Homo sapiens: one gene and its partners. The protein of the gene in region 2 interacts with the protein of the main gene of each other region in a pairwise test. Each region holds a gene or a part of one and is shown on either strand. Other genes may lie near its edges.

Region 1 (8,194 bases), on a different chromosome or scaffold from region 2:
CTTTACTAGGTGATTAGAATGTTTCAGGCTTCACAGACAAAATACACTTAGAAGACATGTTGGTTGATCAAAACACTCAGCCAAAGAAATGAATAATTATTTCTTTATACTGTTCCCAAACACATAAAAGCTGGGTTCTGTGATGTCGGGAAGATCTACTCATCAGATGCTACAGAGACTAACACTTGGGGGGCATGCTGGCAGAGAGCCAGATGTTCACAGCTGCACATACCCCACTCATGACACAAAATATGTATATTCACCGATCTACAAAATGCTTTCATCATTGTGTTTAATAATTCCTTATCATCTCCAAAGTAAAATTAGATGACAAGTATTTGCCAAGGCACAACACAAGAGGGTGACACATGACTGTGACACTCTTTGTCTGCTGTGCACTTAGCCTCCTTTTAATTGTCTGTCTTCAGAGAAGTTAGAGCTATACCAAATGCAAACAGGATGGCAAACAAAGAGACCAGAGCAAAAGATCATTTTTTCACTTTCTAAATACTGGAAGTTATTAATTTACTCATTCTGACCTTGTACTTGCTCAACTTGTAAGCAGAAGACCTTCTTATAGAGTAAAATTTAAGTTGTTGCCATAAACCCCCAACTGCTTTAAAATAGCTCTTCTGCCTATAATCCTAGTGCTTTGAGAGGCCGAGGTGGGAGGAGGACTGATTGAGACCAGGAGTTAAGAGAGCTGCCTAGGCAACATGGTGAACCCCATCTCAAAAAAAAAAAAAAAAAAAAGTCGGGTGCGGTGGCACATGCCTGTAATCCCAGCAGTTCAGGAGGCCGAGGTGGGTGGATCACCTGAGGTCAAAAGTTTAAGACCAGCCTGGCTGGTAGAGACAGTGAAACCCTGTCTCTACTAAAAATACAAAAATTAGCCAGGCATGGTGGTGGGCGCCTGTAATCCCAGCTACTCGGGAGGCTGAGACAGAAGAATCGCTTGAATCCGGGAGGCAGAGGTTGCAGTGAGCTGAGATCATGCCACTGCACTCTAGCCTGGGTGACAGAGGAAGACTTTGTCTCAAAAAAAAAAAAAATTAACTGGGGGATGGTGGCACACGCCTGTAGCCCTAGTTGCTCCAGAGACTGAGGCAGGAGAATTGCTTGAATCTGCGAGTTTAAGGTACAGTGAGCTAGGACCATGCCACTGCACTCCAGCCTGGGTGACAGAGGGAGATCCCATCTCTAAATAAATAAAAAACAGTTATCCTTCCCTGCAGCCTGCTATGGTTGCACTGTTATTTCATACTTCGCCTGAAAATTTTACTCTTATAGTTATCCTTTGCTGTAGAGAACAGTTTTTTGGCTGGGCACGGTGGCTCACGCCTATAATCCCAGCACTTTGGGAGGCTGAGACCGGGTGGATCACTTGAGATCAGGAGTTTGACACCAGCCTGGCCAATATGGTGAAACCCTGTCTCTACTAAAAATACAAAAATTAGCTGGGCGTGGTGGCGCATGCCTGTAATCCCAGCTACTAGGAAGGCTGAGGCAGGAGAATCACTTGAACACAGGAGGCGGAGGCTGCAGTGAGCCAAGATCACACCACTGCAGTCTAGCCTGGGCGACAATGAGACTTCATCTCAAAAAAAAGAAAGAAAAAAAAGAGAAAAAAAATAGTGTTTTTTTTCTTTTTTTGCTCCAGAAAGCAACTATTTAAAGATACATAATAGGCCAGCATGGTGGCTCACAGCTGTAGTCCCAGCACTTTGGGAGGCTGAGGCCAACAGATCACTTGAGGTCAGGAGTTCGAGACCAGCCTGGCCAACATGGTGAAGCCCCGTCTCTACTAAAAATACAAAAAATTAGCTGGGCATGGTGGCGGGTGCCTGTAATCCCAGCTACTCAGGAGGCTGAGCAGGAGAATCACTTGAATCCAGGAGGTGGAGGTTTCAGTGAGCCAAGATTGCACCACTGTGCTCCAGCCTGGGCAACAGACTGAGACCCCATCTCAAAAAAAAGAAAAAAAAGATACCTAATATATGTTCTGGGACCACACGGAGGCCCTCTCCAGAGCTGAAAGGAGAAAATATCGAACCATAAATGCAGTGAGAGAAGAGTAAGGAGGAGAAGGCTGATAGCCCTGGGGGTCGGAGGCGGGGAGTAGGAGTGGCTGGCCGGCCGATGGAAGGGAAAGTCCTGGATGGAGTATTTACACATTCAGTTTGTTCCTGCAGTAATATTTGTGGATACAGGTATTGTGCTTGGTGGCATGGTCCTTGCCCTCCTGGAGTTTATAGCCATGCTGTGGGACTAGGGCTAGCATCCATTAAGAGGTCTCCCGGAAGTAGACCAAGTATTCAGGCAGGTGAAGTGGGGAGAAATCGGAAAAGAGCCATTGAGGCCAAGGGAACAGCGCAATCAGAAGACCTGAAGCACAAAAGAGCTCCCTGTGATCAAGGAACAGGCACAAGGCCCATATGTGGCTAGAGCCCAGTTGGCAAAAGTGGTTCAAGATCAGGCTGTAGCCAGATCCTGTAAGGCCTTGTTGCCACACTAAGGACTTTGAACTTCCTCGTGAAAATGAAGAGAAGTCGTTGAATAGCGCAGGTCTGACAAGATTTTAAGAAGTTTCCTTTAGTTGCTGTGTGGGCAGTGAATGGGGGCGTAAGGAGAGCCTAAAGGAGAGACTGCTTGAAGGGTTATTGCAGGAGTCAAGGTGATAGCTGGTGGCAGGTTAAACTGGGAAAGAGGGGTAGAGATGGTAGGAGGTGGAGAGATTAAGGACACCATTTAGAATTGGAAACAACATGGACTGGAAATGAAGAATAAAGGAAAGAGTGGTGTCAACGGTACAATTTAAGTGTCTGGTGTAAGCAACTGGGTAGAGAGTGGTGCCAGTTACTGAAGGTGGGGACACTGTAGGAGAAACCCACTTGGGGACCAATTTTTTTTTTTTTTTTTTTTTCAGACAGAGTTTCGCTCTTGTTGCCCAGGCTGGAGTGCAATGGCGCAATCTCGGCTCACTGCACCCTCGCCTCCCGGGTTCAAGCGATTTTCCTGCCTCAGTCTCCTGAGTAGCTGGGATTACAGGCATGCGCCACCACGCCCGGCTAATTTTTGTATTTTTAGTAGAGACGGGGTTTCTTCATGTTGGTCAGGCTGGTCTCCAACTCCCGACCTCAGGTGATCTGTCTGCCTTGGCCTCCCAAAGTGCTGAGATTACAGGCATGAGCCACTGCGCCCGGCCGGGGACCTATTAAGTATGAAAAAGTGTGAGCAGGCCGGGTGCGGTGTCTCAGGCCTGTAATCCTAGCATTTTGGGAGGCCGAGGCGGGCAGACCACTTGGGGTCAGAAGTTGGAGACCAGCCTGGCCAACATAGAGAAAACCCGTCTCTACTAAAAATACAAAAATTAGCCGGGGCGCATGCCGGTAATCCCATCTACTCAGGAGGCTGAGGCAGGAGAATCGCTTGAACCCGGGAAGCGGAGGTTGCGGTGAGCCAAGATCGCGCCACTGCACCTGAGCCTGGGCGACAGAGCGAGACTCCCTCTCAAAAACAAAAAAACCCCCCAAATGAGTAAAGAGTAATGTGGATATTATATTATAAACGAACAAACAAAAAAGGACTTCGTATTCTTTTTGCATAGGGAAGGGGAAGAAATGTGGAGTGGAAGAGGATGGTACAGAAAAGGTGTAAAAAGAAAGGCTGTGGGAGGAGTAGGGTAGGAGGGCTTCTGAACTGGGGTTAGTGTCACACTGTGTAACTGATAATTTAAACTGCTGAAAATGAGACCACACTTAAAGATACAGGTCCCTTTAAAAGGAAGGCGGATGTTAAAAGCAATTTGCATTTTACCTAAAATGGGCTGCTTCTCCCTGTACCCTCTCCAAATACAGCCAGACTTTCTGTAGAAACATTTTAATCATGGGCACCCTTCCCCCGAAAAATCCACTCACTACCAGTACACACGACCTTCTGAGTTTAATGGACCTACGGAGGCCCATCCCTGGGCTCTCTGGGCTAGGTTAATCCCAGGTTAGGCCCCAAGCTCAGAGGTAGCAACGTTCCCAGCTCAACGACGCAGGAAGACCACGCCTCTAAATGTTCTGCAACCTCGTCCATTTCAGAATTTTCCGGGGTTCTGGGTAAACTGGCCTCACCAAGGATTCTGCCCCGTCTTGTTGCTCCCGTTTTTAAACACAGACCGGTGTGTGGGAGAGGCCATTATTTTTCCGGAACACTGTGCTCCTGGAGCAGATAGGGACACGCAGAGTGGCTTTACCGCAGCGCCAGCTTCAGCCTTACCCGGCTCCTCCTCCAGGCCACCGCCTCCTCCTCGCGCCCAACCCGCCTTCCCTGCTCACCCCCGGCCCGCTCCTCCCCTTTGCTCTCAGCGCGGACTCGGCCACTCACTACCGGCGCCGTGTTCCACCCGCCCACCGCATGGCCCCGTCCCTATGTCGCTGGTCTCGCCCCCTTCCAGGAGGGCCCAATGAGCGTTCACATGCGCCACAAGGCCCCGCCCCGCACCGCGCAGCCCCGCCCACAGGCTGAGTTAACCAATTCGCGGCCCCGGGCCCCGCCCCGCCCGCAGGCCCCGCCCCGGCGCCCGGCCCCACGCGCCCGCCTCCCTCCGGGGCGTTGCCGCCGCCGCGCCTCAGCAGCCCGCGCGGAGCCAGATGCCGCCCCCTCCGCCGGTCCCTCCCCCGGCGGCCTGGCGCCTCCCTCCCTCCCCACCGCGGTGACTCTCGGAGCGGGAGGCGGAGGCTGAGGCGGCCGCTCCTGCTGCTGCTACTGCCGCCGCCGCAGCGGCTGCTCGGGCTGAGCACGCCCCGGAACAGGCCGCCGCGCGCTGCGCGCCGGACCCGCTGCCCCTGCCGGCCCGGCCGGGTCGGGCGGCCCAGGTAAGCGCCGAGGCCGGGCCGCGCCTGCACCGCCCGGGCCCGCGCCGCGCCGCGCCGGGGCTTGGGGGAGCGGCCAGCCCTTTGTCTGCCGGGGAGGGGCCGCGGAGAGCGCCCCCGACCCCGCTCGGACCCCTGACTGCCCCAGCGGCGCGGCGCCCTGGTCTGGGCCTGGCCGCCTCTCGCCGCAGACCACCTCCCGCCTCCCTGACTCTTCGCCCGGGGGTCGCCTCCACAGGTGTCCGCGCCGCCCACCTTGTTGCTCACCTCACCGCGTCCGGGTGCCTGTCATCGCCCGTCCGCCCTCCCGACCTCTGGGCCCCTGCCTCTTCCCTCACCTGCGCCCACTCTGAGACTCTTACTCTCCATATTTCCCCAAACTAAACGCTGGGCCGCCCTTCCTCCCTCTGTAGTTTGATTGAACTGTCGTCTCCCGATTCCACCCCTCCCCGGTGAGCCTTCCTGGAAGGTACCTGGTGGGGGCACATATCTCACCTGGATGGCGGGCGTGTATGCACGAACCTGCAAAATTAACCACCTGGAGCCCCAAACTGCACCTCTCACCTCCTTTTCATCACCCCACCCCAACCACCTTCCTTTTTTTGGAACCTGGTAACCGAGACACTCAGGTCTGGACACCCAGCCTCTGCTAGGCCCTCCATCCCTCCCTCTGCCTTGTGAGCTGAACTTGTCTGAGCAGTGCCTGTTGTCAGGTTAGCCCCTGGGAAGGCGGCGGGGGCCGTGTTGGCCGCAAATCAAGAGTTTTATGAATAATGAGACGTGTGGCTTGCACCACCTCCTGTCTGAGGATCTCAGTATGCTCCAGCTGTGAATTATTTTGTCTCCTGTCACTCACAGAACTGAGAGGAACATGTCTGGCCAACTGCTGGGTAAATTGAGGTACAGGGTGTGTGGGTAAGGGACCTGGAGGCAAGTCATGGTTTGTCTTGAAGTTCTGTTCGCAGGAGCCTTGGCTCTTAGCTCCCTGCTACAACCACTGGGCTCCAGTTCCTGGAGTGTGTCCCCAAGTGATAACTGATCTCTTGTGCCATTAAAATGTCCAGAGATACCAGCAGCTTCCTCAGATTTAAAGTAGGACTTTGGATCATAAATAAAGGTGCGGGCTGTTAAATGCCAATGTGTCATTCACGGTTTGCTGGGGGAGTTCGTGGTCCTCCCTTGTAAATACAAATCACCTCTATGGGATGGAGATTCATTCATTCAGTAGTGAGCATTTACTATGTGCCAGGCACCGTTCCAAGTACTGGGGCTTTAGTGGTGAAGACAGACACGGTTTCTGCCCTCCTCAGAGATGACATTTTAAAGAGGAGGAAAGTCAGACAATAAGTGAGTAAACAAACAAGTGGACAAAATAATTTCAGTAGTGGTAAGTGCTATGAAGATGGAGAGGGGCCAGATTACATATAAGAATCTGTGGCCGGGCGCGGTGGCTCACGCTTGTAGTCCCAGCACTTTGGGAGGCCGAGGCGGGCGGATCACGAGGTTAGGAGATCGAGACCACGGTGAAACCCCATATCTACTACAAATACAAAAAATTAGCTGGGCGTGGTGGTGGGCACCTGTAGTCCCAGCTACTCGGAGAGGCTGAGGCAGGAGAATGGCGTGAACCCGGGAGGTGGAACTTGCAGTGAGCCGAGGTCACGCCACTGCACTCCAGTCTGGGCGACAGAGCGAGACTCCGTCTCAAAAAAAAAAAAAAAAAAAAAGAATCTGTGGATCAGGGCGGACTCAGTGGTTCATGCCTGTAATCCCAGCACTTTGGGAGGCCAAGGCGGGCAGATCACGAGGTCAGGAGTTCGAGACCATCCTGACCAACATGGTGAAACCCTGTCTCTACTAAAAATACAAAAATTAGCTGAGCGTGGTGGTGCATGCCTGTAGTCCCAGCTACTTGGGAGGCTGAGGCAGGAGAATTTCCTGAACCTGGGAGGCGGAGGTTGCGGTGAGCCGAGATTGCGCCACTGCACTCCAGCCTGGGCAACAGAGCAAAACTCCGTCTTGGGCGGGGGTGGAGAAAAAGAACCTGTAGATCAAAACAAAGATTTTGTAGGTCGTAATAAAGAGTTTGGATTTTATTCCAAGAACAGTTAGAGGCCATTGGAGGGTTTTAAGCAGAGAAAGAATAAAGTCTGATTTGTTCCAAAAGATTGTTCTGGCCACTGTGTAGAGACTGGATTCTAAGGAGCAAAGGTGGAGGCAGGAATACCAGTTATGAGACAGACTATTGCAGCTGCCTGGCAAGAGATGATGGTGGCTTGAGGGATCGGGGCAGTGGCAGTGGAAACGAAGAGGTGGAATCAGTCTGTTCCCTCTGGGAGAGCTGCAAAGCAAAACTTTGGAGACTGAGAGTTAGATGTCCCATAACAACGTGCTCACAGAACAGGTCCCCGCCTCCTTGATTGGAGAGGGTTTGTGGGTTTAAAAACCAGTTAGAGGTGGAGGAGGGCATAATACACTGGGTTTCATTCCCACATCCGGTTGTATTGTTTAAATGGGAACATTACTGCCACTGTTGGAAGATGTTGCACCAGGAAATTGGGCCTGTTCTCATGGTAGGTAGGAGAATGTTTCAGTGGCCACAAACTTGAGCTATTAATGAGAATGAGGCCAGGTGCAGTGGCTCACCCCTGTATATGCCAACATTTTAGGAGGCCAAGGCGGGCGGATCACCTGAGGTCAGGAGCTCAAGACCAGCCTGGGCAACATGGTGAAAACCCGTCTCTACTAAAAATACAAAAATCAGCTGGGCATGATGGCGAGTGCCTGTAATCCCAGCTACTCGAGAGGCTGAGGCAGGAGAATCGCTTGAACCAGGGAGGTGGAGGTTGCAGTGAGCCAAGATCGTGCCACTGCACTCCAGCCTGGGCGACGGAGGAAGACTCTGTCTCAAAAACAAAAAACAAAAAAACTCCCCAAAAAACAGAATAAAACTTATCTCCATGCTGCTCCAAATCTGTGCTGTCAGAACATGTCAGAATGAGAGGACCTTGGGGGTTACACAGGCCAGCCCCTTCTTTTATGGTTAAGCGTCTGTGTCCCCTAGAAGCTGGCTCTTTTGAAATCTTATAGCAGTTTATGCATTTTCTTATGATGCCTGCTAGTTTCTACCCCATTTCATCTCCATGTGTACACATGTGACTCTAAGCTTTCTGAGGCCAGAATCTCTACTGGGTTTGTCTTTGCATCGTCCACAGTGTCTGAATCAGCGCCCTGCACAAAATGTAAACTCTTCAAATATTGGTTGACTTGCCTGGGCATCTCATCGCACCAAGACTCCTGCCCCTGCCCCTGTCTTTTCATCAGACCATGCT
Region 2 (7,710 bases):
AGTGTCTCCTAATTGCAAAATCCAGGGACAGAAAGAGAAATATTATTTATTTATATGAGGGTAAACATGTCTACTTCTGCCTCTGTCATCAGAATGTCAGCTCATGAGGGCAAGGACTTGGCCTTTTTTCAGTGCTGTATCCCCAGGGTCCATTCAACACCTGGTGGTGGAGTAGGTGCTTAGTACTGGTTAAATAAACAAATGAATGAAATAGGGCACTGCCCTTAAAGGTACTCACAGGGCTCAGACCCAGCTCTGGTGCTTCACAGGCAGGCAGAGCAGTGCCTGGGGCAATGAGCTACACAGACAGAAGCTCTTTCCCTTCTCTGAAGCTTCCATAATGTCATTGTCCCTCCTGCTAAACCAGATAGACAGTCTTGGAAAAGCCTCTTCCTTTCCTTGGGCCTGTTTCCCCATCTAAATTCTGCACAGCAAAAGAAACTACCATCAGAGTGAACAGGCAACCTACAAAATGGGAGAAAATTTTTGCAACCTACTCATCTGACAAAGGGCTAATATCCAGAATCTACAATGAACTCAAACAAATTTACAAGAAAAAAACAACCCCATCAAAAAGTGGGCGAAGGACATGAACAGACACTTCTCAAAAGAAGACATTTATGCAGCCAAAAAACACATGAAAAAATGCTCACCATTACTGGCCATCAGAGAAATGCAAATCAAAACCACAATGAGTTACCATCTCACACCAGTTAGAATGGCAATCATTAAAAAGTCAGGAAACAACAGGTGCTGGAGAGGATGTGGAGAAATAGGAACACTTTTACACTGTTGGTGGGACTGTAAACTAGTTCAACCATTGTGGAAGTCAGTGTGGCAATTCCTCAGGGATCTAGAACTAGAAATACCATTTGACCCAGCCATCCCATTACTGGGTATATACCCAAAGGACTACAAATCATGCTGCTATAAAGACACATGCACACGTATGTTTATTGCGGCATTATTCACAATAGCAAAGACTTGGAACCAACCTAAATGTCCAACAATGATAGACTGGATTAAGAAAATGTGGCACATATACACCATGGAATACTATGCAGCCATAAAAAATGATGAGTTCATGTCCTTTGTAGGGACATGGATGAAATTGGAAATCATCATTCTCAGTAAGCTATCACAAGAACAAAAAACCAAACACCACATATTCTCACTCATAGGTGGGAATTGAACAATGAGATCACATGGACACAGGAAGGGGAACATCATACTCTGGGGACTGTTGTGGGGTGGAGGGAGGTGGGAGGGATAGCATTGGGAGATATACCTAATGCTAGATGACGAGTTAGTGGGTGCAGCGCACCAGCATGGCACATGTATACGTATGTAACTAACCTGCACAATGTGCACATGTACCCTAAAACTTAAAGTATAATAATAATAATAATAATAATAATAATAAAAGTTTGGGACAAAAAAATAAAAAATAAATAAAATGCAGCTTATGAACAACATGTGCTTGCGAGTTCCTCTCACATGTGGCTCTACAATCTTAGGAAGCAGGAAATCAGAAGGGGATTGATGTTGCCTCCATCCATTGTCCCTGGTGTCCTGTCCTGAGCCATTTGTAGAGGAGAAACTCATAGAAGAGAGATGCTCCCTTCTGTTCTTTTAGGGCAAAATCAATGGTTTAAAAAAAAAAAACAAAAAAAAACCCTAAGGAATCCCCCCCATCCCAAATTAAGGAGTCACCTTATATTTATTTCCTGTAACAATCATTAATTGTCTACCTACCAGTCACTCGTTTTTTGGAACAAATATTTATTGGTTGTTCTCTGTGCTAAGCACTGTGCTAGGCACTGGAAAAACAATGTTAATCCAGACAATGTCCCTGCCCCTAAGACATCTAATGGGGCCATAATAGGCAAGTATAGAATGCCATGGCAATAGAAAGAGGGACACATAGCCCATTCTTATGAGGGACAGGGAGTCTTTCCAGGATGTCCACAAGACACACTGGAATCATACAGGTGAGAAGTCAAGGGCAGTTCGTTCCAGGCAGACAGAAGAGTGTGCAGCTGGAGCGTCAAGTGCCGGGGGAGATGTGGTAGAAGGGGTTGGCAGCAGCCAGGCCATGGAGACTTGTAAGCACTCAAAGGCAAAAGTGACCCAGTGAAGAGTTTCAGCAAGGGCTTGAGTGGTCAGACCTGACCTTTTAAAGATTTACTCTGGCAGCAATGGGAAGAACATGGGGCAAGGCATTTGCAGAAAGATGATGCCTGCTAGTTTACAGTCTGACTGGGGAGACAGGATGCTGACCCAGGAAACTGTCAGTGATGTCAAACAACACATAAATGGCAGAATACATTTAAAAATTAAGTACCAAACAACCAGTGAGAAAAAGCTTAGAGTTCAGAGGAGGAATAGGTAATTGTATATGGCTCCAAAAAGTGCTCTGAAAAAGAACCAAAGGAGGCCAGAATGATCAGGGCTAGCGGGCCCAGCGAAGGTGCAGGGCTTCAACTGAGTCTTCAAAGATGGGCAGGATGTGGTGAGAGAGAGAAGTGATGAGTGAGTGTGCTTTGGGAAAGGGACAGTGACTAGGAAGCAGAGATATTCAACACAAGCCACTGAGGCATCTGTCTTCAGTTCCCATGGGGAAGCCACTACCATGTCAGTCCAGGGCTGATTCCTGGGAGAGCCACAGACCAGACAGGCATCAGCAGCCCCAGAGAGACACTTCTAGGGGAAGGAAGTGTGCCAAGATCTGTGCATGCTAAATGGACGACATGGCCATGAACATTTAAATCAACGTCTCTGGGTGGGTCACTTCTCCCGTTACCATGGCAACAGGGCTGTTATAAGGAAAAAGCAGCTGCTGGCCAAAAGCTACTACTGCTGGCTCACTGCAAAGCTGAACCTGTTTGCTCCAATTCACCAGTGGGGCTTAATTATCTCAAAAAGCTTCTGTGCAAAGATTCTAGACTTTCCTGGAGGGGCTTTTAGATGAAATGATGATTGCCCCTCTTCTCCCTCCAATCCATGTCTGCTGTTACAGTCTTCCTTAAAAATCAGACATGATCATGCAACTCTCCCATTAAAACTGTCCAACAGCTCTCCTGCTGCCTACAGGATAAAATCCAAACTCCCCGGCATGGCATTTATAGCATCTGCTAATGGTGTCTCACATCTAGCTTCATTTCCTATCACCTCTCGCCCCCATCCCTTGCACACTTCAGCCACCAAGCTTCTGCCCAGTCTCTGAACATACCACATATCAGGCCCTTGCACATACTGTTTTGTCTTTCTGGAATACCCTTTGCTACCTTCTTTCTCTGATAGATGTCACCTCCACAGTGAAGCCTTCCCTGATTCTTCCTCCCTTCCCCATCTCTTCTTCACCCAATTGCCTTTTCTTTAGAGGAAGCCTTGCTTTTTTATGTGCATAGCACAACTCTCTGCCCACACCTCTATGATAGCATGTATCATAGTGTAGTGTAAATATTTGTTTTTCTCCATTGTGCACTAAGTTTCCAAGAGGAAAGAACCAATACTTCATCTCACTGTAAAAGCCCAGCACCCAGGCCAGTGTCTGGCACACAGTGGGCTCTATTCTGTTGACGAATGACTAATGGCTGCCTGGATGAACTGCACATGTTAAGGGCACAATGTCTGGCTTGACAGAAATAATTCTGAGACAATATCTTTAAAGAGGCAACATGCTTATAGAGGTGCATTTTTTCTTGTTAATATTTAGCACACTTCCTAGGGGGAGGATTAAATGTCCTCTTCCCATTGACATCCAGCTTGGCTTGGTGACTTGCAGTGCTTTCCCTGTGGAAGAATTAGAACCTTGCTGTTAACTGCAGTAGTGCCCACATGCTTTGCTCTGACCAGTGAAACATGGGTGGAAGTAACATCTGGCACTTCCATGCAGAAGCTTTATGAACCAGCTCATGTTTGCCATTTGTCTTTTTCCTCTTCCATGAGACTGGCAATGTCCCATACAGAGGCTGCTCTGTCAGGCTGGGTCTCCAAGTGAAGACAGTGGGATGGCTTCAATCAAAATTTAATCTAATCATGATTGTAATTTAATTTAATCATGATTGTAATTTAATTATAATCATAATTACATTATAACTAAATTTTTCCTTAAAACAGCCCTGTTGCCATGGTAATGGGAGAAGTGACCCACCCAGAGATGTCTATTTAGTCATTCATGGCCGTGTCGTCCATTTGGCATGCACAGACCTTGGCACACTTCCTTCCCCTAGAAGCATCTCTCTGGGGCTGCTGATGCCTGTCTGGTTTGTGGCTCTCCCAGGAATCAGCCCTGGGCTCACATGGTAGTGGCTCCCCCATGGAAACTGAAGACAGATGCCTCAGTGGCTTGTGTTGAATATCTGCTTCCTAGTCACTGTCCCTTTCCCAAAGCACACTCACTCAACACTTCTCGCCACATTCTGCCCATCTTTGGAGACTCAGTTGAAGCCCTGCACCTTCGTTGGGCCCGCTAGCCCTGATCATTCTGGCCTCCTTTGGTTCTTTTTATAACGAAATTATAATAATGATTGTAACTGAATTACAAAGTTTAATTTATAATTATATGTTATAATTTATAATTCATAAATGAGGCACAGAGATTAACAATAAAATATAATAATAATAATATACTGTAATAAAATTATGGGAAAATGACCTCTCTCTCTCAAAATATCTTATTGTACTACACTGAGAATAACTGAAACCACAGAAAGTAAAATTGCAAATAAGGGGGACTACTGTACCTCTAAGTTCTAGCTGTGGCTCTAGCTACATGTATGAGCTTAACAAGTCCCTTCCCCTCTCTGGGCCTCGGTTTCCTTTTTAACAAAATAATGAAGTTTAGCTTTCTACTCTAACTCTGTAAATTTGTGCTAGGATTTTACTCCTTGCCGCTGTCATTTCACCCTTTTCCCCACCTCTACCAATTACATAGAATGGTTGACACTTTTGAAGTGTTCTTTTTTATTTGTCTTTTTTTAGGTTAAACTTACATACAATGATATACACAGGTCTCAAGTGGACCATTTGGTGAGTTTTGACAAATGCATACAGCCACATGTACCACGTCCCTAACAAGATATTGAGAGCACATTTTCAATACCCCAGAGAATCCTCTTGTACATCATCCAGTTAATCCTTTCCCTCTAGAGGCAAGCACTATTGTGATTTTTTTCCACCATGGACTAGTTTTATGGAATGGTTGGCATTCTGAACTCCTTGGCTCTTTGAGGTGTCTAGTTGTTCAGGTTGCCTATTCTTACACTCCTGAACTCCAGGCATGTGAAGATGAAAGAGAAATTCTTGGCGGGTTCTCAGGACACTCACCCATGGTTCTGCAAGTTCTCTAATTTTCTGAGCCTCTGAGTCACTGACGAAGTCATGGTAGAGAGCAATGTAGGGCTCCAGGTGGATGACCTCCTTCCGGATGGGCTGGAGCAGCAGGTAGGCGTTGGAATTGGTCTCATAGGAACAGTAGAGGCTAGGGATCTGGTAGAGAGTGGGCTGGAAGGAAAGAATAGGATGAGCATAAGAGAAGAAGGGTCTAGGAGCAAAACTCAACTTAGGGGAACTATGGCATAAAAAAATTGGAATGCAAGAGATACAGAATGTGGTCACTCTGATGCTGCCCAAGTGAGCTTTATTGTTTTTAATGCATCAGCTCTATCCCCTCATGTTATCCCAATTCTAGCTTCTCAAACTCTAGCCAGGCCTCTCCCCCTTTCTCTTTCCCTGAGGAATCCTACCTGGGAACCCAGGGTCTGACATAGCCCCTCGTAGGTGTCTCTGGTCTGCAGGTGGGGTATATTGGGCCTCTGGATGACAGCCTCAGCTACCACGTGGTTGGGGCTCTCTGCCAAGAGCCTTTCATATTTCAAGACATTCCTGGCCATCCTCTTATTATCTGGGCCTGGAAGAAATCAGAGCAGGGAATATAAAATAGGGATTAACAAATACTGGCCCCAGGGAGTGCCACCAAGGTTTCCTCCAGCTTCACTGCTGCACAGGATGGGCAAGTGGATCTCCTGAATAACTCCTCATGTCAACACACAGGAGGATGCAAGGCCCTCACTCCCAGAAGACTACCTGGTATTTTTTTAAAAGACTGACTTGATCCTGGTAGATCTGAAGGTGCAAAGGGTTTTGGGAAGCAAAGTGGAACTTAAAACTCTTAGGCCAAGGGATCATGAAGATGGCTGCTCTGGGATACTGTGATGGTATATATGGCGAAGATGAAGCCTCATTCATTCATTCATTCTTTCACCCATCCATTCAGTAAATCTTCAGTGAACATCTACTATGTACCAGATACTGTGCTACAGGTTGACCTCTCAGAGTTTAGAGTCTAATGGAGAAAAAGGACATTAAATTATCACTTACAACAAAATATGATAAGTGCAATGAAAGAGAAGTCCAGAAAGCCAAAGCCTATTGCAAAAGGACCCAACCTATTCTTCCCCAGAGAATTGGAAGCTAATTCATTCTTGGCTCCACTAGATCTTTCAAATCTCCTAACTGGCCTAGACCCAGAGCAAAGAAGTATGGCGCAGAGGGACTCTAGACTTTGGCTCTAGACTGGATTCCCACAGGGCCCTTGGGAAACCCAATAAATCTTGTGTCTTGTTTGTGCCCACCTGTTTGTACCCACTTTGGCTGCAAGATGCCCCATGCATTGGCAGAGCTACCCGTGGCCTGCTGGCCTCTTTGCATGACTCTCAATGCATCTCAGAAGGAGATGCTGAATTGTTCTAATGCTCCCAAAGCATCTTTCTCTGAGGAGCCCAGTGTGCTTCTAACCACAACCATCACCCTGGCAAAGGAGGAAAGGAAGGGGCAGAAATTACCATTCTGTTTTAACAAGAGAAGAAGTGAAGTTTTGGAGAATGGAAATTATAAGCCCAAACCCCAGTGAAAATATTGCAAAGCCGGAAATAAAACTGGGAATCTCAACTTGCCATGTTCTATTATCCACCTATAAAAGCACAAAATTTGAGTGGATAGCAAAGATTTTAATAGATCAAGTGCAAATAAATAAAGAAGGGTTGGATTATAATTTTGTTTGTACCACTAATTACTCATGTGTTTGTAGATACACAGCTACTTCCTTATCCTATTGTTTGCTAATTATCAGAAGGGAATAATGTTACTAAATGGATTCATTAAAAAGTTTTGTATACATGCAATTATAAAGTCCTACATGAAATACTTTATAAATATTAAAACAAAATAGTGATTTTGTATCTCATTGTAGTATCTAAATACTAAATACTCATGCCTGTAATCCCAGCATTTTGGGAGGCTGAGGCAGGTGGAACACTTGAGGCCAGGAGTTTGAGACCAGCCTGGCCAACATGGCAGAACCCCATCTCTGCTAAAAATATAAAAATTAGCTGGGCATGGTGGCACATGGCTGTAATCCCAGCTACTTGGGAGCTGAGGAACAAGAATCACTTGAACCTGGGAGGCAGAGGCTATAGTGAGCCAAGATTATGCCATTGCACTCCAGCCTGGGTGACAGAATGAGACTCTGTCTCAAAAAACAAAACCAACAAACAAACAAAAAAACCACACCCCTAAAAGCAAAAGCAAAACAAAACAAATAAATACTGTATTAAAGAAAAACCTAGGAAGCTATCTACCACTAAAATGTTAAGCAAATACATACATATAACTTTGAGGCAAACATTTCCAAGCAGATACCTGAGT
Region 3 (7,710 bases), on a different chromosome or scaffold from region 2:
AGGCAAGCAGAAACTTGAAAAGTGCTAGCACACAGCGACCTGCTCACACTTTTGCTACTCTTAGAAACCCTGAAACCACTGGCATCAGGTATCTGAGATAGGGTGAACCTGCTGGATGATGCACATGGCTTTCTCAAGTACTTCTGCCTCTGCCAACAGCCAGATGTGAATGAAGTCACTGAAGTCACATGGGTGAGCTAGTGCCCCAGGTGGATCAGAGAAAGTTGTCTCAGGACATCCCACCCTAAACTGCAGACTCACAGAATCATGAATAAATAAATAGTGAATAAATAGATTTTGAGGTGGTGTGTTGCAGAGCAACAGGTGCCTGATACACTGCACAAAACCAACTTACTCTCTTTATACCAAAGTTTTGAATGCAAACTTTGCCTTTATATTGTTTTTCAAACTCTTGTTCATAATCCATTAATGAGTGATAAAATCAATGAAGTGTGTTACGACCAGCAATTCTTTAAAAATAAACTAGTATTGGCTGGGCACGGTGGCTCATGCCTGTAATCCCAGCACTTTGGGAGGCTGAGGCAGGTGGATTACCTGAGGTCAGGAGTTCAAGACCAGCCTGGCCAACACGGTGAAACCCTGTCTCTACTAAAAATACAAAAATTAGCCAGGTGTGGTGGCGGACGCCTATAATCCCAGCTACTCATGAGGCTGAGGCAGGAGAATCGCTTGAGTCCGGGAGGCGAGGTTGCAGTGAGCCGAGATTGTGCCACTGCACTCCAGCCTGGGCTACACAGTGAGACTCTGTCTCAAAAAAATAAAATAAAATAAAAATAAACTAGTATAAAGTGCATCACATGTAAAATGAGTTATTTCATTATAATATGTATATGAGAATAGACATATTTACATACACATATGCACGTATTTATATGTATTCTGGAAGGAAATATAAACTGCATCTCAATATCAGTTATGGTTAAAAAAATGTGAAAGTTATTGTCTCTGAATATGGACAACCTCAGAGATTATAAAGTTATATAAGTTAATCATTGTGGAGAAATTACAGTAACTAAATACGCAAATCTAGGTTAAGGTACCCAAAATAAATTTTACAAATTCCAAATTTCAAGATTAAAAATTTATTTGGTAAGATTTAAATCAATTTTAATGCATAATTAGTAAGAAAATAACATGAATCATTAGAGACAATTTTAATTGATACATGATTTATAGTCACCATATACTAAGCAGAAAGTTTTCTTCACTCACCTATTACCATATTCAAAATATCATCATTGTCATCTACTAAAGGGTCCATGCAAACCATGTCCAGCAGTTCCATTAACTGCTTTTGAAGAGAATAGGCCTCCTTGAAAAGAGCCTGGAGAAGGTCTGAAACTAGGTGTAAACACCCAGAATACACAGATTCACTATTCTGATTACGGATAAATAAAAATGAGAGAAAAAACAAATCAAAGCTCAAGAGCCAAATTTACTTTAATTCATACTATTAGAGATCATAAATTTACTGAATCACATATTCATTCATTGTTTAGTGAACATCCATTAAATATAGTGTGCTTCAAGAGATGCAAGCATGTATAAAATATTATTTCTGACTTCCATGATCTTGCAAATACAGAACTAAAAAAGGGTAACATTAGGCCAGGTGCGTGACATTTTTAGCATCCTATCAGCAAAGAGAGGTATTAATTAACTAGTGATTTTCATTCGCCCAACAAATAGCAATATTAAAACTGTCTGTGACCCATAAATTCTAGGCAAGCTTTTGTGCCTCAAGGCTACCTCTGGCATGTAGAGATGGACTAAATAAGGATTAACTTTCCTTTATAAAAGGAAGTTCTGACATCTAATCATAATGGTAATTGAATATTGGTCAATGCAACATGACATAACTATTTCAGGATCCCTGTGTCTGTCTCAACACAAATTCTTAAAACTTCTTTCTTTATAGAGGGGAAATAAGATAAAACTAAAAAACCCCAAAAAGCCACTTTTAATGACTTCCTTAAAACCACTTTTTTTGCAACAATTATTTACTTACATGTTCTTTATTCTATGGAAAAGTTTATTTCAATAATATAGACTAAAATGTAAAATCTTATACAAACATTATTTTACTCAGCCCCTATGCACATTGATTATATACCATTCAAAGTATAATTAGACCTTTACTCACCTTACAATGCACAAATGTGCTTTTAATTATATGAAGGACTGAGGAGGGGAGACTCTGAATATTTTCCAAAATGATGGATTCCTGTGTGGCACAGATATGCTGAACACATCCTGTGAGAGCTCCTAAGAGCTGCACCATTGTCTGTGAATAAGGAAGGAAATTTCACTTAGAATATATTTTTTGTGCACTGAAAAGGTATTAGTCAGCATGCTGGGTGCTACAAATACAGCAATGAACAAAACACAGTCTCTTCCTCTTTTCACAGAACTTTAGTCTATCAGAACTACAAATACTGGAACAACTGTCTAGCCATTTAGAATACTAACACAAACTTCAAAACACATGGCAGGTGTTCCACACATATCCTTGAAAATACAGGTAGGGTCAGCTAGCTTGATGACTTCTCTTCTTATAAGAGTTTATTATTCAGAATTCATGTTTCTATATTCACGTCTTTAATTCTATAAATTTAATTCCAACATTAGGCCATTACATAAGAATACATAGCTAATCAGTATCAGTATAAAAATTTTGACATTCTTTAAGCTCCCTCTCTCTCCTGCTTTCTAATACATTTGACTTACTTGTAAAATATTCCTTAGAGTGGTCTGGATTTCCAAATTTTGGCTTGACAGTCCTCTGGCTTGACTGGTTAATTCATACATCATGTCATCGAATAATTTCACAGTCTGTAAAAACAAATCAAGTAATAAACAGGAATAAGAGAAATCACTAGAAAAGACAAGACAAAACTTTACAGAGAAAACACAATACGATAATTTGATTTTGCACTAGTAACATCCACAGGCTATCATCTAGCTTAACAATTGTACCTAATTAAGCACAAAATACAGAGAAAAGGTATTTTTACAACATAATCCCCCCAAAAGCCCCAAACAGAAATTTATTTTCCATTTCTATGGTTTGAATCTATTTAATAGCATCAATTTTTTTAAAAAATCACTCAAAGTTCATGTTTTAGAGATGCAAAAAATAAAAGTATTACTTTCGCACAATAAATTTGACTGTCTTGAAGAATCCACATTCATACAGTCATTTACAAGGGTATTTTCTGGAAGGAATTTGCACTGAATCGCCTATTCACTACTCACTTATTTTCTAACCAGTTTCCTTTTGACCCAATTCAAGCTAACCTTCCTGAATTAAGGGTATAGTAAATGACCTTACAAACAAGCTTTTTGTCTGTGAAAAGTTAGCCACCCTAGATCTTAATACTTGGATCTTTCTAACAATTTAAATGACCTAAACATTATAAGAATAGCAACACAGTCAACAATACAATGTAGCTAAAGAAAATACTGTTTCCCATAGGCCTGTTAACACTCAACATCCATTTTCATCTATGTAACAGTTGAATCTTTTTCTGGTGGTCAAGAACAAATTCTAAGAAATATTTCAGATAGAGAATCATCAAGTGACTATGAGTACAAGAAATTTGAAAGATTACGATTCAAAGCTAAAGTTAGAAACCCATTTCAATAAGAGATTAATTACAAATAATGTTTCATTTTGGCACCAAAGTATCTTTAGTTCCCTCCATTTAAAACAAAAAAGGTATGCTTGTGCTTTTCAGAGAAAACATATACCATATATATCTAAAATGTAATAATGTATTCTGTGAATTTAATGTTTTCTCTTAGTTACTTGATTTTGCCAATATTCCAGCTTTTCTTTTTTTTTTTTTTTTTTTTGAATTAAGGGTTTCACTCTGTCACCCAGGCTGGAGTACAGTGGCTTTAAAATACAAGAGCATTTAAAATTGACTACAAATAATTTAAATTCAGTTAGTAAAGGAACCACACAATCTGAAAATATAAGTTCTTTTTTTTTTTTTTTTTTTTTTGAGACGGAGCATCGCTCTTATTGCCCAGGCTGGAGTGCAATGGCACGATCTTGACTCAATGCAACCTCCGCCTCCCAGGCTCAAGCAATTCTCCTGTCTCAGTCTCCCAAGTAGCTGGGATTACAGGCACCTGCCACCATGTCCAGCTAATTTTTTGTACTTTTAGTAGAGACGAGGTTTCATCATGTTGACCATGGGTGGTCTCGAACTCCTGACCTCAGATGATCTGCCCACCTCAGCCTCTCAGAGAGCTGGGATTACAGGCATGAGCCACCGTGCCCAGCCTGTAACAGTTTTTAACTGCCTAATGATCACACTAACACCATTATAGTCTCACATGAGATCTACTTACTCCTTATTTTTATTTTGAATATATTTGATATATTAGAAAAAGAGAGCCATAATTAATAATAAATCATCTAAGACTGAGGCTAGATTCCTTATAACATGTATTTTCAGGTAATAGTATTATACCTTTGGTAACACTTGTGAAAAGAAAGTCTGTTCCAATGTCAGGTGGTTCATATGAGGTAAAAACATTTCTACAATAATTTTCAAAATTTCTGTAAAGCAAATAACAAATTTTATAAAAATATTGTCATGTCAGTCAACAAAGGCCACTGCCCTTTATTAAATGCAAGAATACTACCAATCTAAAGCTTGATACACTTTCAAAATACCACATTCTATACAGAGAAACTATTAAGTAGTAGCCAAAAAAAAAAAAAAAGAGAGAAAGGAAACGACCTACATATCCAACAATTGTGGACCAGTTAAATAGGTGTGTGTACATCTATTGAATAGGATCTGCCATCATTAAAATGACATTTTAAAACATGAAAAATGTTCACAATGTAGTTAAACAAAAAGTTTCCAAAATATAACACCAATTTTAATGTAGATAAACATGTACGAAGAATGATGGATAGGCTGGCAGGAATATACGGAAATGAGATGAGACTGTTCTCATCAAAATCTTAACCATTTCAGATTAGATGTTTTGTAATCTTTTCTGTTTTTCTATATGTTTCATATTTTCCACAATGAACATGAATCACTTCTATACTCAAGATAAAAAAATAATTTACTTAAAAAAAATTATGCCACGCATGGTGGCTCACGCCTGTAATCCCAACACTTTGGGTGGCTGAGGCGGGAGGACTGTCTGAGCCCAGGAGTTAAAGACCACCTGGGAAACATGACAAGACCTCATGTCTACCAAAAAATAAATATATAAATAGAAAATTAGCCACGCATGGTAGCACGCACCTGCGGTCTCAGCTACTTGGAAGGCTGAGGTGAGAGGATTGCTTGAGCGTGGGAGATGGAGGCTGCAGTGAGCTAGCTATGTTCGCACCACTACACTCCAGTTTTGGTGACAAAGCAAGACCCTGTCCCCCAAAACAAACAAACAAAAACACAGGCCAAGCATCATGGCTCAGACCTGTAATCACAGCACTTTAGAAGATGGAGGCAGGAGAATAGCTTGAACCCAGGAGTTCAGGCTGCAGTGAGCTATGATCGCACTACTGCTCTCCAGCCTGGGCAATAGAGTGAGATCTTGTCTTGAAAACAAAACAAAACAAACTCTGGGGCCAGGCTCAGCGGCTCACGCCTGTAATCCCAGCACTTATGGAGGCCAAGGCAGGAGGATCACTTGAGCTCAGGAGTTTTGAGACCAGCCTGGCCAACATGGTGAAACCCCATCTCTACTAAAAATACAAAAATTAGCCAGGCGTGGTGAAGCATGCCTGTAATCCCAGCTACTTGGGAGACTGAGGCAGGAGAATCACCTGAACCTGGAAGGTGGAGGTTGCAGTGAGCAAAGATCACGCCACTGCACTCCAACCTGGGTGACAAAACGAGACTCCAACAAAAACAAAGGAAAAAAAAATTAGGTCCCATTACACAACGTAGATTCAAATTATAAATGAATATTCCACAACCAAGTGAACTCTAAATAGAAAAGCTAACTCAAAATATGAGTAAACTGAGCAGTCTAAACTCTCTTCTGACTAGAAGAATGAATCTCATCAAGTAAGACTGATGAAGACATGAAAATGAGAAAGTCAACTTCCTCCAAATGGTAAATTTGTTATCACCTAGACAATCAGCTTTTGGCAATTTAGAAAGCATTTTCTAAATGACACTAAACATGTTAGAGGCTGATAGCTATTCAGTAGACTGCATATCATGTTTTATATAGGTCTAATCGTAACAACTAACGTTTAATATTTACAATTTGTTTATACATACATCATCAACAAAACACTTTGGTATTTATCCAAAATGTAATTTAAAACTTTTAAGTGCTGGAATTTGAATGAATTTGTTCATTTCAAGTAACTGAAGGTTATAAAGGCTGTAACATAGAGAACAGTTACATTTCAAGGGAATACAAAACTGTAAGAACACATCTACCGAGGTATGTGGGGACTCGGACCTTAACATCAAAGTACATCATACAGTTAAAACAATTTTACTTACGAATATGCTCAATCCAACTGTCAGAATGTTGAGACAATGAGTAGGATAATTAAGGAAGATACTAGTATCATAGTAATAGGGTATTCATTACTCAGAACAAACCTAAAAAAAAAATAAAACCCTTTTGAAATTTAAGCAATGACTCATAAGAGATTGGAATTGGACTCAAATTACTGGCTTAATTTTGCTTTTAAAAACTTAAGATTTATTAGGTAAACAGTATTGTGAAAACACATTAAAGAAATATTTTGAAAATTGCCCAGGGACAAACTTGCCTTTTCAAACTATGCATAGTCATGAAATATTTTTGACAGATGAGAAACAATGCTACAATAATCCACAGGTTTATGATTTATTTATTTATTTTTTTTTAGAGAGAGGGTCTCGCTCGGGGCCAAGTGGGGTGGCTCACACCTGTAATCCCAGCACTTTGGGAGACCTAGATGGGCGAACAAGAGGTCAGGAGTTGAAGACCAGCCTGGCCAGTATGGTGAGAACCCGTCTCTACTTAAAATACAAAATAATTAGCTGGGCATGGTGGCGCACACCTGTAATCCCAGCTGCTCAGGAGGCTGAGGCAGGAGAATCACTTGAAACTGGGAGGCAGAGGTTGCAGTGAGCCAAGATCGCGCCATTGCACTCCAGCATAGGCGAGACTCCGTCTCAAAAAAAAAAAAAAAGAGAGACGGTCTTGCTGTCACCCAGGATGGAGTGCGGTGACATGATCACACCTCACTGCAGCCTCAAGCTCCTGGGCTAAAGTGATCCTCCCATACCAGCCTCTCAAGGAGCTGGGATTAGAGATGCACACCACCATGCCCAGTTTGTACTTCCGATTTCTATTACAAGAAATTTTTCTTTCCTCAACATTTCTATTGTACTTAATTTATACCTAAGTCACTCATCACCTTCTATCTTTTTTCATATTACTTACATACCTATCTTACCAACTTTATTTGACTGAAATTCTTCTGCACATAGCAGCTTACAAATACACGACAATAAATTCTTCATATACACCATCAAGAATAATTGTTAGAATAATTGTTAGAAATGTTTTACTGTAACAACACCATAAGAATCATCAAAGAATGTTAATAAGAAAAATGAATAACCCGGCCGGGCACGGTGGCTCACGCCTGTAGTCCCAGCACTTTGGGAGGCTGAGGCAGGCGGATCACGAGGTCAGGAGTTC
Region 4 (7,636 bases), on a different chromosome or scaffold from region 2:
AGTCATCCAACAGAACAGAAACTCACTGCTAAGAATGCTGACTGCTCTCTTCAAAGAGGCAGGAATGGGCCTCATATCACACGAGGCAGTGGAAGCTAATGGATGGGGCCCTGGAAGGTGCACTGGCCCAGACCCCCTCCCACTGGCCCTGGCTGCAACATGTGCTGAGACTCACTCTTCTCCCTCTCTCAAAGCCCGTTCATGCAGGGGTGGGTAGGAAATGTGAGGTTCTCCACCGATCTTTAGTGTATGGTGCAGGACTTTCACATAGCTGGTTTCAATGAGGGCCCTTGGACCCCACAGGAACTCGTAGCATGCAGGATCACTGCCGGGCACCTGCCGGTACTCCAGGTAGTTTTCCTGCACCAGATCTTGCATGAGCAGCTTCCTGGGATGTGCGAAGACACTGTCCTCCCTCCCCTCAAACACCTCCAACATACTCAGCTCCTCCCAGATTTTCTCCTCAGGGGCACAGTCGCCCTCTATTGCGATTATGGCCAGGACGATTATCAGGAGGCCTGTCTTGGGCATGACCTGATTGTCGCCCAGCAGGCCATCGTAGGAGAGGCCCAGGCAGGTGACAAGGATGTACAAGTGGCTGATGGGGACCACTTCCACCACCTCGATGCCAAAGACCAGCTGCAAGTACTCGGAGGCTTTGCTGAAGATCACGGGAAAGAAGTCCTGGCAATTTCTGAGGACACTCTCCAGCATTTCTGCCTTTGTGACCGGCTCCCTGGCTCGATACTTGAGGAGCAGAAAATGAACCAACTCAACCATCTTCCTACTGATTGCTGCTTGGAACTCGGACTCCAGGTCGGGAAACATTCTTGGCCCCTCCTCTTCTTGGTTGCTGGAGCCCTCATCGGATTGTCTCCAAAGAGTGTAGTTGATGGTAGTCGAGAAGCTGGAGGCTCCCTGAGGACTGTGGGGAGGACTCGGTGAGTCGGCAGCAGGCACCTCCCCCAGGGTAACTTCCACTAGAGTAGAAGAGGAAGAAGCGGTCTGCTGCTCCTCAGTAGCAGGAGCCTGCGCACCCACCAGGCCCAGGGCCTCTCCTCGGGCCTCAAGGCCTTCTTCAGGCTTGCAGTGCTGACTCCTCTGCTCAAGAGGCATGATGACTCTGGTCAGGGCAGCAGGCAGGAGTGCGGGCAGGAGCTGGGCAATGAAGACCCACAGGCCTGGGGAGAGAAGGAGCGTGTGTGAGGCCTTAGGTGAGAACTGAACTGAACCTTGGAGGCTCTGACAAAGGCTTACTTACAGATCTTCTCCTTCAATGCTCCTCCAGTGCCTCGGGTCCTACTTGTCAGCCTGTCCCCCTCAGAACCTGAAGGAGGAAGTGGGAGGGCACCTCAGGGTACAGCCGGCCAGCACATGCTCAGGCTGCAGGACTGAGAATAGGGAGGGTGAGGCCAGGCCCTCTGGAGTCCCATTTGTTCTGGGCGGGTGGGGCCCTTGGTGTGCATTCCAGGCAAACCTTCAGTGTTGGCACTGTCTGCGTCCCCTCTGCTCTGTGACCTGAGGACACTGACTCAGACCAAGGCCTCACTGCCTGGTTCCTGGAGCTCCTGATTCCTGGGAGAGGAATGCACGGGCCTTCAGTGTGCAGACTGCAAGCACAGCCACGGATTCCCAGAAGTCTCAGCAGGGTTGGCCAGACTCCGTGAGGTCCCCACTCTACTTGGGTGGAGGGTCCCCTCTGTGCTCACTCAGGGCCCTCACCTTTCTCCTTGTAGGGCCTAATCCCACCCTTTTGCTGGCTTGAGAATCTCTCATGTCAAGAACTCACATCCCTGATATGGTACAGAAGGAGATGAGGGGACCCACATCTGGCCATACGTGACCAGGTCCTCCCGCGAAGGACAACGAGAGATGTCCAAATTCATTGGAGTCCAGGTGTCCTGGGTGACGAGTCCGCTTGGTCCTCACGTCCACTCCTGGCAGGGCCTGAGACCCTCCCTCTACTGACCTGACTCCAGCCCCTTCAGACCAAGGCCTCCCCTTCCCTGACATCAAAGATCCCAGGATAATGGAGGGACTTCAGCTGACAGCCCTGCCCAGGGTCTCTGAAGTAACCGCAGGGGCAGGGCAGATTTCTATGGGGCCCCCTGTCTGCATTCTGGCCCAGGAGTACCCTCAATCCTACCTCAGGCTCTCCACCTGGATGCTTGGCAGATCCTAGAACCACTGCATCTGTCGACCAGATGGGGGCCCCTGTGTTGACCTGAGTCACCTTCTGAAAACAAGGTCATCAACTCCCTGAGATCTGGAAACAGAAGTGAGGAGGGGCCACATCCTGTTACCCCCACGTGCGTTGTCCAGGGCTGACCCCTTTGGTTCTAGGGTGAACGTTATGATGGCCTCCTGTGGGTTACTCATCTTTACTCCTGCCAGGGACTGCCCTTTCTCAACCCCCAACCCCCTGAAATGAGCAGACAGCTCCTCTTTACACCAACACCTTATCTCCCTGAGGGTTCCCCAACCTCCTGCCTGTGGTACAAATGAGATTGTCACTTAGGGCCATCCCTGATCAGGTTCCCCCAGAGCTAAGAACAAGGGACGGCCAGACTCTGTGGCATCCCTTCTTTCTGGGCCGGGGGTATCCCCAGTCCTCATGAAGGGGGCACACCTTGGGTCCGGCAGATCCTGGGATTCCTCCCTCTGCTGACCTGAAGTCCCAGCCCTCAGACCACAGCCCTCAACTCTCTGTCACCCTGAAGGTGCAATGAGCACGGGGCACATTCGGCCACTGTGCCCAGGATCCCCCAGCCCAAGGTTGCCACTGATCTGGACTCCAAGGTCCCCTCAGTCCTCCCTCTTCTTCCTCCCCTTGACTCCTCGCAGGGCTGGGCCCCAACCCCCTGCTGAAGTGGGTCTGCATCCCTAGGATTCCCGCGGCTGAATGAAAAGGTGGCTCAGTTTGAGACAGGGGTACAGTGGGCCCCCTGTCCTGGCATGCTGGGTCCCCTAAGGACTCCACTGTCTTCCAGGAGGGCCTGGGCCCTTCCTCTGCATCCCAAAGGCCATACTCACGAGACCCAACCCCTTCCCTCCCTTAGCCGTACATGTGAACGTCAGGATCCGCGTGCTTGGCCGCCATTCCCGGAGCTTCCGTGGGTTGATTGCAGGGGCAAAGCCCGGATTCTGCCAGGATGGTGGTGGGGGAGGAGATGGGAATGGGGTTTGGGGGTGGGGTTGGTGTTTGAGGGATGGGGGTGGGGTTGGTGTTGGGGGATGGGATTGGTAGTGAGGGTAGGGGGTGGGTTGCCCTCAGTCCCCTCTTGGGGTCCTGACCTTGATTCCTGGCTGAGTCTGGGCCCTGAGCACTTCTAACCAGCCCTGCCCTGGTCACACAAAGCTCTTACGCCAGAGTTCCCTGCGGTTAAAGCGGCGGGGGGTGGCGGGGTGAGGTGGTGGCGACTCAGCCTGAGAAGTCTTCCCCTGCAGGGTGGTCCAGGCCCGGCAGCAGAGGCAGCGCTGGATTATTGGGGGCCCTCTGTCTGGGGTGAGGCCCGCCTCAGTCCTCCCTCGGCGTCTTACCTTGCCTCCTCACGGAGCCTGCGCCTGCTTCCCTCCGCCGACGTCAGGCCGTTGCTCAGGGCGAGAATCTCGCTGTCCTCTGACCTCCAATGCGCAAGTCAGTGGCGTCACATCCGGGCCCGTGACTTCCCTGGGTTCACGGCAAGGGTGGAACCGGATTCTGCCCGGATGGGGATCTGGATGGGGGGGTGGGGGTAAGCATGAAGATGGTGTTGGTGTAGGGGTAGGGATTGGGACGGGGATCCTGAGGCTGTAGATCCTGGTGGGGTCGGGGGAGTTGGGGGTGGGAGGGGCCTTTGGTCATCCCTCAAGGTCCTGACTTGGATGCCAGACTGAGCCTGGACCGCCATCCTCTGCCGATTGTGTTTGCTCCCCTCAGACCAAGTCTCTGACTCTGAGTCGGCCCGAAGTGGCATTGGGGGGAGGGGTGTGCTCGGGGTGAGATCATTGCCAGTGTGTACCAGGGCTGACAAGAGGGGCTGAGCTGGATTCTGTGGTCCCACTATGTGGGTGAGGGTGGATCCTCAGTCCTCACTCAGGAGGGTCCTCTTCCTCACTCCTGGCTGTTTGATGAAGGAATGGGTGGGAGATGCTCTGTTTCTGTCACCTCTGAGCATCTGCGCATCTGCGCATCTGCACCCCTTGTAGAGAATGGCTGCGGGTGCCAGGCCAGGTGCTCCCTGCAGGGCAGGAGCTCCCGCGATGATAGTGACCTCTGGGAGAAGACGCACACCTTCCCACGGGGGCTCCTCCCCAGCCAGAGCTACACTTGGCAAACCTTTGGTCCTAAATGATTTATTCTCTGAATTGAAGAAATACGGTTTACATATCTTCTAAGTATATATGTAGGTAGCAATATATATATTTATTTCTATGAACTAACACCTACCCTTAGTATGCATGATTCACTCTGATATCCTAGTCTACTTCCATTCCAGTCTTTGTGTTCTGTTGAAAGAATTTTTTTAAAAAACATAATTCCTCTCCCACTCTGTTGGTTTCAGGTTGTTATTAGCAGAACTCTGGAGCCATGCTGCCTTAACAAACCCAATTTTCCTGGTGGACACTGCTATTACCTAGGGCTCTTGGCATCGTGTTTTCAGGGGCTGCCTCAGATTGTGCAATGAAGTGAAGTGGAAAATTCAAAACTTTTATTCTACCCATTCTTTCATCTGCCGTCTAGGCAGGCTACAAACCTCCCCAACATCTCTGCCGCTAACCCCCTCCAACAGACACTGCAAGTGTCACACACAAGTACCAGCTCAACACAGTCTCCAGTCTCACTCTGGGCTTTCCCTGTTTTGTTGTGTAGATTTTCTTGCTGATACTGGTGTTTTACTTTCTGTTTCCATTCTATAAATTTACAGGGTTGATTTGGGAAGCAGAGCACAGCAGCCCAAATTTGCTTGTAATGTCGGCGGCTACAGGTAAGGCACTAAATTGTAAATAATTTAAGCTGAGTTTACATTTTTACACTGTTGTGTTCCCCGTGAATGAATATGTTATACTCCTCTATGGATTTCAAGCTCTTTTTTCCTGAATATGTCAGTATACTTCGGTAGTTGCCTCTATAAACAACTTATACATTTTTATTAGGCTTCTATTCAGGTAATTCTTGGATTTTGTTGCTATTGCAAGTGGCATATTGTCTATCAATTGTTGTAGTTAGTTATTGCTTTCGTGAGGTGAAGATTTTGATTTTGCTGTAGTAATCTGTTGCACACCTCGTTCTGAAGGCCGATGCACTTGAATATTCCGCATACCTTTTCCTTTGAATTTTCAAGATCGATAATGGTATTATCACTAAACACTACATGTTTTTCCAATGTTCATACCACTCACTCATTTCGGTACTTACAGCTCTTTGTGTCTCAATCCTGATTTCAAATGTAGAGATAATAGGCTACATCTACTTCTCGTTCCTGACTTGAATGATAATTCTTCGAACATTTGACATTTAAGTATGTTTGCTGTTGATTTTAGGAAATGGAAGTTCTCTTTCAGTATAGGTTGCCTAAATATTTTCTTTTTTACCATGAATTCATATTAAATTTATTTAAAAAGCTTTTTCTGTACCCGTTGGCAGGATCAAATTTTTTTCTCTTCCATTTTGTATGTAAGGAATCACAATGAAACAGATGTTTTTTCTAATGTTAAATCATATTTTATTTCCTTGGGCAGAGCCTGTTTATTCGTTTAATGTACTACTAATTTATGTAGGATATTTACTGCTGTGTAAGAGAGCTTACTTGATGTGTTCTTTTTCCATCAGGGGAGGTATGTGGTCCTCATCTGGTTTTTAAATCCAGGAGGGCTAGCCTGGGAGAATGAACTGAACAATTGTCAGTCTTTTGTATGTTCTGGAAGAGTTGATATAAGGCGGTGGTTAGTTTTCCCTGATCATTTGGTAAAATTGGCCTCCAAAGCTGTCTAACCTGGAATGTTTGAGGGTGGCTTGAGCTTTGAATATTGTACAGTTTCTGTTGTATAGTTAAAGTTTTCTTTTCCTCTTTGGATCAGTTTGGTTACTGATTTATTTTATTTCTACAAAGTGGTCAGTTTCATTTAGGATTTCACTTTTAATGGCATATTTATGATAAAAAAGTTTTATTAGGGAAAGCCTTCACACATACAGAATAACAGGAACGAATATAATGAACCCAGGATACTTGATACCGAGCATGAACATCTTTAAATACACAGCAAATCTGGTTCCAGTTAAACACTCGCCTACCTGCATATGAGCTGCTGGAATAACGTGGAGTAAATCTAAGGCATTAGACCATTTCATCTCTAAATAACTTAATATGCATTTTTAAAAGATAAGGATTTTTTTAAAACAAAAAGCCGATAGTTTTCATATCTAAAAAATTAAATAAATGATTATCAAATGTTCAACTATGTTACACACTTATCTGGCCAACTTAAACTTTATAAAATATATATTTCTTTGATGGAGTACAAAATGTGTTAACTTTTCCCCCCACTTGCTTCATTGTGGTGGTTTCATATATCTATTATACAACTAGGTGTGTGTGTGTGTGTGTGTGTGTGTGGAACATTCTACCTGCCGTCCCGTGATTCTCCAACCTCTTAAGTTACTTTTAAACTTTACATACATTAAGCTTCACTCTTTGTGCTGTAAAGATCTATGGGTTTTGACAAATGCCTCGTGCCATTGTCTTAGTCCGTTTGGGCTTCCATAACAAAAATAGTGATAGACTGGGTGGCTTATAGACAACGCAACTTTATTTCTCACATTCTGGAGGTTGGGAAGTCCAAGATCAAGGTGCTGGCAGATTTCATGTCTGGTGGAGTCCTGCTCCCTAGTTCATAGACAGCTGCCTTTTCCCTAGATCCTCACATGCAAGAAGGGATAAGGGATCTCCGTGGAGTCTGTTTTATAAAAACACTAATCCCATTCATGAGGACTCTGCTCTCATGATCTAGTCATTCTCCAAATACCCCACCTTCTGCCTAATACCATCACCTTGGTAATTCAGCAGATGAATTTTGTGGCAACACAAATATTCAGACCAAAGCAAGCACGGAACCACCATTGCAGTATTATGCATACCAGTTTCACTGCCCTGATAAATTCCCTTGTGCTTGTCGGATAAACCCCATGGCCACCACTGATAGGTTTTTCATCTTTATAATTTTGCATTTTCCAGAATGTCATATAAATAGAATCTTATACTATGTAGCCTTTTTAGACTGGTTTCTTTCACTTAGCATAATGAACTGAAGAGTCATGTATAACTTTGTGTGGCTTGGAACTTATTCCTTTTCATTGAGGAGTAGTATCAATGTCTGGTTATATATATATATATATATGTATATATATATATATCCATTCACCAAATGAAATACATTTTGGATGCTTCTATTTTTGGTGATTATGAAATAAGCTATTGTATACATTCATATACAAATTTTTATGTAGACATAAGTTTTCAAATCAATTGGGTAAATTGATTGAGTATGGCTGCTGAATCTTGTGCTAAGTCTATTTTCATTTTTTTAAGAAAACGCCAAACTGCCTTCCAAAGTGGCTGTGCCATTTTGCATTTCTACCAGCAATGAAGGAGAGTTT

What was found.
Region 1: the proteins of P4HA3 (region 2) and CTNNBIP1 interact in binary tests that used the Homo sapiens proteins (3 or more experiments, as listed by UniProt).
Region 3: the proteins of P4HA3 (region 2) and FIRRM interact in binary tests that used the Homo sapiens proteins (3 or more experiments, as listed by UniProt).
Region 4: the proteins of P4HA3 (region 2) and MAGEA2 interact in binary tests that used the Homo sapiens proteins (3 or more experiments, as listed by UniProt).

The regions. Positions count from the first base shown.
Region 1 is NC_000001.11:9,906,766-9,914,959, reverse strand, and holds the start of CTNNBIP1 (beta-catenin-interacting protein 1), read left to right. Parts: upstream 1-4,690; 5' UTR 4,691-4,865; intron 4,866-8,194. UniProt on the Homo sapiens protein: Prevents the interaction between CTNNB1 and TCF family members, and acts as a negative regulator of the Wnt signaling pathway.
Region 2 is NC_000011.10:74,280,478-74,288,187, forward strand, and holds part of P4HA3 (prolyl 4-hydroxylase subunit alpha-3 isoform 1 precursor), read right to left. Parts: intron 5,915-7,710; coding exon 5,751-5,914; intron 5,509-5,750; coding exon 5,332-5,508; intron 1-5,331. UniProt on the Homo sapiens protein: Catalyzes the post-translational formation of 4-hydroxyproline in -Xaa-Pro-Gly- sequences in collagens and other proteins.
Region 3 is NC_000001.11:169,797,764-169,805,473, reverse strand, and holds part of FIRRM (FIGNL1-interacting regulator of recombination and mitosis), read right to left. Parts: intron 6,618-7,710; 5' UTR 6,556-6,617; coding exon of another isoform or gene 6,516-6,555; intron 4,592-6,515; coding exon of another isoform or gene 4,569-4,591; coding exon 4,503-4,568; intron 2,854-4,502; coding exon 2,749-2,853; intron 2,306-2,748; coding exon 2,165-2,305; intron 1,400-2,164; coding exon 1,234-1,399; coding exon of another isoform or gene 1,226-1,233; exon of another isoform or gene 1,088-1,225; intron 1-1,087. UniProt on the Homo sapiens protein: Regulates PLK1 kinase activity at kinetochores and promotes faithful chromosome segregation in prometaphase by bridging kinase and phosphatase activities.
Region 4 is NC_000023.11:152,750,248-152,757,883, forward strand, and holds the start of MAGEA2 (melanoma-associated antigen 2), read right to left. Parts: upstream 3,596-7,636; 5' UTR 3,541-3,595; exon of another isoform or gene 3,295-3,540; intron 3,145-3,294; 5' UTR 3,066-3,144; intron 2,267-3,065; 5' UTR 2,147-2,266; intron 1,576-2,146; exon of another isoform or gene 1,478-1,575; intron 1,328-1,477; 5' UTR 1,262-1,327; intron 1,182-1,261; 5' UTR 1,117-1,181; coding exon 172-1,116; 3' UTR 1-171. UniProt on the Homo sapiens protein: Reduces p53/TP53 transactivation function through recruitment of HDAC3 to p53/TP53 transcription sites. Also represses p73/TP73 activity. Proposed to enhance ubiquitin ligase activity of RING-type zinc finger-containing E3 ubiquitin-protein ligases.